2 separate regions of the Homo sapiens genome follow, and region 2 is linked to region 1. A link means that fine-mapping ties the variant in region 1 to the expression of a gene that starts in the linked region. Tissue or cell type: whole blood. Region 1 holds a variant in brackets; the other region holds the start of a gene. All regions are shown on one strand. Distances are between the middles of the regions.

Region 1 (4,353 bases):
ATCTTAAAACAAAACAACAATACAAGATAACAAAACCAGATATTCCTCAGTTTCCGGCCAATTTAGCTTCCACATTGGTTTTCATTGCTAAAATGAAACCAGACAGTACACTTCTCTTTCCTTCTTTTGAATTCAAATTCAAATTCCTCCTGTTATGTCTGTGTATGTGGGTATAGGCATGTGTATCTTTTAAGCAAAAGTATTTAGCACATATAATATGCAAGGTACTATTCTGAGTGTTTTTACATGTGCATTTTTTTCACAAATTCAGTGTTACTAATGTTATAAAATTAGGAAGCAAATTAGGATTTGAATGCTAGACTTTTGGCACAAGACATGAGGCTCTTAACTTATCCTCTACTCCTTCTCTCTAATATCTTCTAATAGAACTGCTACCTAATTTTCAGGGCCCAGCACTAAATAAAAGTGTAGGTGCCCGTATTAGTCTGTTTTCACACTTCTGATGAAGACATACCCGAGACTGGGCAATTTACAAAAGAAAGAAGTTTAATACACTCACAGTTCCGCATGGCTGGGGAGGCCTCACAATCATGACAGAAGGTGAAAGGCATGTCTCACATGCGGCAGATAAGAGAATAGAGCTCATGCGGGGAAACTTCCCTTTTTAAAACCACCAGATCTCATGAGATTCATTCACTATCAGGAGAACAGCCCAGGAGAGACCTGCCACCATAATTCAATCACCTCCCCCTGGGTTCCTCCCACAAAATGTGGGAATTGTGGAAGTTACATTTCAAGATGAAATTTGGGTGGGGACACAGTCAAACCATATCAGCACCCTTGCTCAAAAATGATTAAGATTTCCAAGATGGCAACAGTGGAGCATTAAAGTAAGCACAGAGGCTTTCTGAGTGTGGGTCCTTGGGCACAGGTGGCATGCCAAGAAGCCAGCTGTTTCTTCAAACATTCCTTTCTAATTGTACATTTTGTTTGTATGTGTGTGGCTACAGTGGAAGTCAGGGAATTATTACACCTAAGACAGGATGAGTTTCTCTGTAATTTGGTTCATTCAGGCAGCAGGGCATGGGCAGATAAAGCTGTCCCTGAGGAGGAGGGGTATAGTCTGACCAGGAGAACACAGTGCCCAAGGGCACTGAGAACAAAGCTCAGATCAGCAGTATCTGATATGGAAGATAATGTCAAGGTTGTCAAAGAAGAGCATGGCAATGGGCTATCTAAGGGGAAATTAATACATGGGCTCTATGCCCTGGCTGCGTTTTTTTTTATGGGAGTCGTAGGAGGTTGAATGAGATGGCACGATAAAATTAATTCTGGAAAGTATCAGTCAAGATGGGCTCAATTACACTGCAGAAACAAACATGCCTATAATATCAGTGACTTTGGACAATAGAAATTTATTTGTTGTTCACATTGCCTTTCCATCATGAATCTCACAGAGCAAGTGGCCGGGTGAGGGAGTTCTCTGCTCAATATAGTTTCTGAGGGATCTAGGCTGATGGAACAACATACGCTGTTTTGAAATTTTTTGATCATGGATCAGAGAGAAAGAAGTATTCTATAGGGCTCAATTCACAACGGGTTAGTCAGAAATAGTCACATGGCCCCATTCAGTGACAAGGCTGTGCCATTCTACCATGTTCCCAGGAGTTATGAGAACTGGAATGAATTAAATATTCACACGAGGAGACAAGTACAAGAATGCGTATAGGAGTATTGATTGTAAAAGGAAAAAAGAAACAATCCCAGTATCCATGGCCA[A/G]ATACTGTTTGCCCAACAGATGGCTAACAGGCATCTCCAAATTAAACCTGCTAGAACAATCTATGTTTTTTTCTTCTCCAATTCTTACCTTCCCCAACTCAGTGAATAATGCCTTTTCAGTTGATGAGTCCAAAAACTTGAGAGTGAATCTCACACCTCATGTTAGAAGATAGATTCTTTTACCTTCAAAATGCATACAGAACCTGACCACCTCTCACAACTTATCTCTGTGGCCCTAGTGTAAGGCAGGTCTCTAATGAGGTTGCACCCTCATCCTCAAGTGTATTAGTCTGTTCTCAAGCTGCCAATAAAGACGCACCCGAGACTGGGTAATTTATAAAGGAAAGAGGTTTAATGGATTCAGCATTCAGCATGGCTGAGAAGGCCTCAGGAAACTTATAATCATGGTGGAAGGGGAAGAAAATACGTCCTTCTTCACATGGCACCAGCAAGGAGAAGTGCCAAGCAAAAGAGGGAAGCCCCTTTAAAAACCAACAGATCTCGTGAGAACTCACTCACTATCACGAGAACAGCATGAGGATAACCAGCCCCATGATTCAAGTATCTCCCACCAAGTCTTTCCCAGGACACATGAGGATTGTGGGAACTACAGTTCAGGATGAGATTTGGGTGGGGACACAGCCAAATCATATAATCAAGTATTTGTATATAGGCCACTTTCCCATCTGGGTGTTTCCTGGCCTCATGCCAATTGCAGTCTGCTCCCTGACCATGCCCTCCCCGCCCTCTTTCGTGCAATTTAACAGCACTAACAGGCTGAATGAAACTTCCCTTATGATTTTTTCTTTTGACTTGGCTTCAGGCCTCCTGGTTTTTACTCTCTTAATTGTAATTTCTTTTTAGTCTTCCTTGCTTGTTCCTCCTCATCTCATGGACTCCTGAATGTTGACATTCAGAATCCATTCTTTCACTGTCTTCTCTGCTCTTTGGTCTTATACCCCTGGTGATCTCATACAGGGTTTCTAGTCCTAACTTCGTAGACAGCATCTCCGTTTCGGTGTTCACCTTTCAACTAGAATTTAATATGTTCAAAATTGAACTCCCTTCCTGCCCACTCTGAAGCTGCTTCTTCTAGTCTTCCTCATCCTGTTAGGGGATATTCATCATCATTCATGTTGCTCTGGCTAAAACTTGGGAGTGATCCTTCATGCCTCTCTTTTTATCTTCCCGCTCCCATGTTTAGAGAATAAACAAATATTGTGGGTTACACTTTTAAAGATATACAGAATATGACCTTTTTCAATATTCTCAGTGTCAACATCTGTGTTCGATTATTAGACCTGCCATAACAAAGTGTCACAAACTGGGTGGTTGAAAACAAGTACTTCTCACTGTTCTGGAAGGTAGAAGTCTGAGGCCAAGGTATCGGGAGGTCTTTGCTTACTCAGAAAGATCTAGGTGAGAATCTTTCCTTGCCTCTTTTAGCATTTGGTTGTTGCCAGCAATCCTTGGTGTTTCTTGGCTGGTAAAAGCACCTCTCTCATCTCTGCCTTAATACTCACATGGCCTTCTCCCTGTGTGCATGTCTCTGTTTCTTCTCCTCCTGTTATGAAAACAACAGACATTAGATTTAGGGGCCCACCCTACTCCAGTATGACTTCACTTAAGTTACATCTTAACTACATCTGCAAAGGCCTTATTTCCAAATAAGGTCACCTTTACAGGTACCAGGAGTTGGGACTTGAGCAAATATTTGGGGAAAATGTAGAAGTGGTAATAATCATCCAGTGATAATTATCTTTTCCTGGTTGCAAATTTTATTAGATTTAAAAAGTTTTATTCATTCCCGCTTTGTTGAAAGTGTTTACCGTAAGTAAATATTAAATTGTACTTTTTGCCTCCTGGATCTGCTGAAGTGATCATGTGATATTATCCTTGAATATTTCATTCAACACAGAACACACAATTCGGCCACTCTAGTCAAAGCTACCATGATTCCTTGCCTGGATTATGGCTACAGACCCCTGTTAGTCTCCTGCTTTCACCCATTCTCCCGTGTAGACTAAACAGTACAGAATCCAAAGTGGTTCTTTTACAAGTAAGTCAGATCACATCACTTCTCTGCTCAGAAATTTCTAGGGTTTCTTTTCTCACTCAGACTAAAAGCAATTCCCTCCCAATGCACAGCAAGTTCTTGCAGGCTCAGTGCCCTCCCCTCCTTAACTCTCTAGCTTCATCTTCTACTTTCTCCATGGATCACTGCTGTCCAGGCATCCTGGGACCACTGTGCTCCACAAACACACTGAAGGGATTTTGCTTTCCATTTCCTCTCTCTCAAATACTCTTCCCCATAAATCTTACTGTATTAGTCCGTTTTCATGCTGCTGATAAAGACATACGCAAGACTGGGCAATTTACAAAAGAAAGGGTTTTAATTAGACTTACAGTTCCACATGGCTGAGGAAGCCTCACAATCATGGCAGAAGGCAAAGAGGAGCAAGTTACGTCTTACATGGATGGCAGCAGGCAAAGAGAGAGAGAGTGTGTGCAGAGGAACTCCTCTTTTTAAAATAATCAGGTCTCGAGAGACTAATTCACTATCACAAGAACAGCATGGGAAAGACCCACCTCCATGATTCAATTGTCTCTCAT
Region 2 (4,176 bases), 44 kb after region 1:
AAAAGAAGCAAAACTGTTAAAATATTTACATCAAAATTTTGATCAATTATCAATATGTCTAATTAGGAAGAGCTTATCCAAAATTATAAAAACATGGGACAGACAAGTGGAGACAGTTATAAATAAAAATTAGCAAAAGATAAAATTATAAATAATCAAAATATGCAGAAAGTTTATTCATATTAGTAAACAAGCAACACATCAAAATAAATGTGAGATATTGTTTTACAACTACTAAACTAGTCAAAATACACTTTAAAAATAACATGCAAGCAAGAATGTGGAGAACCGGTACACCACATTTTTGATTGCATGTATAACTCATTTTGAAAACAATATGGCAGTCGGAAGCAAGGGTGATGAAGATGTTTCTTCTCCCTAGCTCAGATATTCCACTATATGAATTTTATATTGAATATATAATTTCACAGAAATAAAAGAGTTCTGTGCAAAACTTTTGCATGTTGTATTATAGCAAAGAGAATGGAAATAACCATTTAAAACAATTGTTAGATAAATTAATACAGATATATGAAAAATACTTAGAAATAGGAAAAATCCTTATTGTATAAGTCAAAACAAAAAATATTATAGTATATATTCCGTATTATTTTCAATTATGTAGGAAATATAGACTATAAAATGCAGACGATAAAAATAATTGATGTGTTAAAATAATAAAAATGTGCATGTTTCCTAATTTAAAAATGTTTAAGCCCAGTTATTCCTGATAACTAGTATAAAGATACAATAACCAGATACCAAAAATTATGGTTTTATAAAATAAGAAACAATTTTTTATGAATAAAGCATATAGTCAAAAAATAAGTTTATAGTCAGGGTACCTCATGCGTGTGTGTGTGTGTGTGTGTGTGTGTGTGTGTGTGTGTGTGTGTGATAGAAGGGTCCCTGGTCTATCTCTCACTACATTTCTTATGCAATTCTCTTCAGAAGTGAAAATATACATAAATTATTGCATGTATTCTGTGGACTTCATAGCGTCACTGTGAAGGTTAAACGAAATAGTATGTTTGAAAATGCCTATTCTGGTCTATAGCTGTACGATACGTTCCAGGTGCTCAAAAAATATTCTTTCAATATATTTAATAAAAGGACAATAATATTAAGAATTTGTTATATTATAACTTTAATAAATGTATACAAAGATTCTTTTTTTCACCTTCAAATGAAAGAACTAGAATCGATCATTTTGGTAGGCCCCACCAACTCTGTAAAGTTCCGTGGAATGAGCAGAACATGAAGAAAGTCAGAAATCAGTAAAGGACGATTATAAGAAGACGATAAATGCATGGATCCCCTGGAAAAGCGTACCTTAAAGAGAAGCTTTAAAATCTGTGTGTGTGTCTGTGCGTGTGTGTGTGTGTGTGTGTAAAATAACCTTTTTAACAAATAAACAAAATTAAAGTACAACATACAGGGCCTTTCATTACAACCTTCACCTGGTTTCACAACATGTAATGTACATTCAGAAAACAGATGTCTTTAACTTTCTATGACCCAGGTAGTAAGCAAAGTCTAATTCTAACATGTAATGCTTTTTTTTATTTTTCTGGAGTGATGAATAATGCTTCTCACATGGGAGGGCATTATCTACCTGAGGAAACACATATGGCCCTTTTATCTCCTCTATGCTTAATGCACAGATAAATACTTACACACGCACAGAGAAATGCTTCCAGTCACACGATCTGCTCATTGGAGGAAAAAGCACACCCATGCAGCCTGTTACATTTGCCAGCGCTGGGGCTTTGCTCTAAAGCAATGTCTGCTTTGGATGGCAAATTTCATAGTCTCTATTTAATAGGTTCATAGAGGGGATACTCACCTCCAGCTCCCCCAGACTGGATGTTATTCTCTAATCCCTGACTCCTAAAAGTGTCTGTGCCCAAAACATACCTGTTTCTTCTGGACCCTGAACGGCACGCTTATTTCTGCTGTTCTGACTGGAGTTGCCTTCTCCTGGAGCTGGTGGTTCAAAGATCTATGAACAGAAAAACTTCAAGTTATTAGAAAGACAGCTGAGGCGAGGGAGAGGCAGCAGTGTAGGCAGGATCTTGCCTGCGTCTTGCAGCTGCTGCAAACTCACTTTCAGTCCCGCGGTGACAGCTGGAGCTTCCTCCAGGCCGGCCTTGGGGGCTCCTGCTCCTGCTGGCAGCTTCTCCGCGTGGTGGCCCTGCAGCTCTGCCCGGAGGCTGGCCAGGTCCCCTTGCAGGGCGGCCACCTGGTAGAAAGACACCACCGTGAGGCAGCAAGACAGCAGTGCCAGCAGCAAGGTTGCAGCCAGCAGCTTTCCGTCTTTGGAGGATCGGACAGAGGGGCTTTCCTTCCGTGGGAGGATGGAAACACACTCCTTCAGTTTCATTTCTTCTCTTTTCTTAAGGCAAGAAGTAAGGCGTGACTGCTCCCTTTCTGTGGAGTCATCCATATCACTACTTGAACTTTGAAGGTTGGGGCCTTTAGAATAAGTGACCACAGGGAATGGATCATTTCCTGTTATCTGTGTTTGTTGATGTCCTGCGTGCACTACATGGCAGGGCTTGGCTCACCCCTCAGGAGAGTTATCCTGAATTTTCTCCTTTCTGCCTTTCTGCATCTCTACCCCTACTGTACAGTAGGTTTGCTGGCATTTACCCTCCGATTGGATTGCTCAATCTGTCTTCCTCATTTCACTTTCAGTTTTTGTAAGAATTTCAAAGTCTTCTCATAACACTCATGCTCAAGTAGATTTAAAACCCCTTAAATCTGCTGAGGAAACTTGGAGTTTGGATTGGCACAGTCAAGGGAAAGCTTTTAAGATATGCTCAGGTCTGAGAAGCCCACCCTTAAGTGTAGCAAGGGAACTCTGTCTGCTTGGGACCACATGGCTTCATAAGGAAGGGGGAAAAGCAGCTGAAAGTTCCTGCTGCTGTCATAAAAATAATTAATGTGAAGGTCAGATAAGCTAAGTGTTTTAGCATTGAATTGTTCTTAGCTAGAGAGTGATTTATTAACAGTCTTCAATTATGAAATAAAATGGAGAATCCTTGAAGGAAGTGTGGAAGTAAGTCCACTGGGAATTATTCATATTATTATACTAATAATGTCATAAAAAGAATGAGAGTAAATGTTACAGACGTATTTAGGTTAGATATCTGAAGGATTCTCTAAATATAAGTGAATATATTTTTAAGGAAAACATGCATAAACTTTTTCCTTCTGGGACTCATCACTGAAACTCAATCATGCATATGAACAGCCTGTCCCAAGGAGCCTGGTCTCAGCTTTTCTGCTCAGACTTCTGAGGCTTTAAGTCCCCGCTCAATATGATACTAGTTGAGGAGAATCAGCCTTGCCTCCAGCTCCAAATGCCTGACTGCTACCATTAACCACTCTCAAGTAGCTTGTCTACAACTCCCATGTTGACTGTGCCACAGCCTAACAGGTCGGTGTACAAGAGGTCCTTGATCACACAAGAGCCACCTTAGCTTTGGATTTTTCTGTTGTTGACTTGGTGGACCTGTGAGGACTGTTGCATTCATTCTAGTCCTGCCTTATCCTGATGGCTGGTTCCTGGACATTCCCCAGTTTTTCACTGCTTTGCCCCAGCATTGAAATATTGATTCATCTTTCAACAAACGTTACTGAGCACTTACCAAGCCCTGGGTAGTCACTACTCCCCTGTGGACTAAGAATAGTGAGCTTTAGTTCTGTCTCACTCTACATTTCCACACAGTCTTAAGTAAGAAGTTTACAGAAATGATATAGTGCAAAGTGGAGAACTCCAGACCCAGGCTTCTAGACTGCAAATCCTGCCTCACCCTCGCTCTCCTTATGCAAAGTACATAATCTCTCTGTGATTCCATTTCCTCACCTGTGAATTCGTATGACGATATTAACTGTCCCTGGGATACATAATGAGGCTTACAAGAATGTGGAAACAAATTACATTTTGGATGCTTCCATTTAAAAAAAAATTATTTCCACAGGTTTTTGGGGAATAGGTGGTATTTGATTACATGGTTAAGTTATTTAGTGGTGATTTGTGAGATTTTGGTGCACCCATCACCCGAGCAGTGTACACATTGAACCCATTTTTTAGTCTTTTATTCCTCACCCCCCTCCCACCCTTTCCCCTGAGTCCCTAAAGTCCATTAGATCATTCCTATGTCTTTGCAT

Evidence for each region. PIP is the estimated chance that this variant, and not a neighbour inherited with it, causes the effect.
Region 2: it holds the start of TNFSF13B, and the variant in region 1 is fine-mapped to the expression of TNFSF13B in whole blood (INTERVAL, PIP above 0.99).

Annotation. Positions count from the first base shown.
Region 1 is chr13:108,311,681-108,316,033 of GRCh38, reverse strand. No RefSeq gene overlaps it. Among named protein-coding and RNA genes, the nearest start is that of TNFSF13B, 44 kb to the right of the region's middle. The variant A/G (reference allele first, on the strand shown) is at 1,741.
Region 2 is chr13:108,268,166-108,272,341 of GRCh38, reverse strand. It overlaps TNFSF13B (TNF superfamily member 13b), which reads right to left and starts at 2,624. Exons shown (of 6, transcript NM_006573.5): 1 at 2,108-2,624; 2 at 1,918-2,002. The coding sequence starts at 2,446. RefSeq lists a silencer at 1,719-1,798 and enhancers at 1,699-2,207, 2,159-2,588.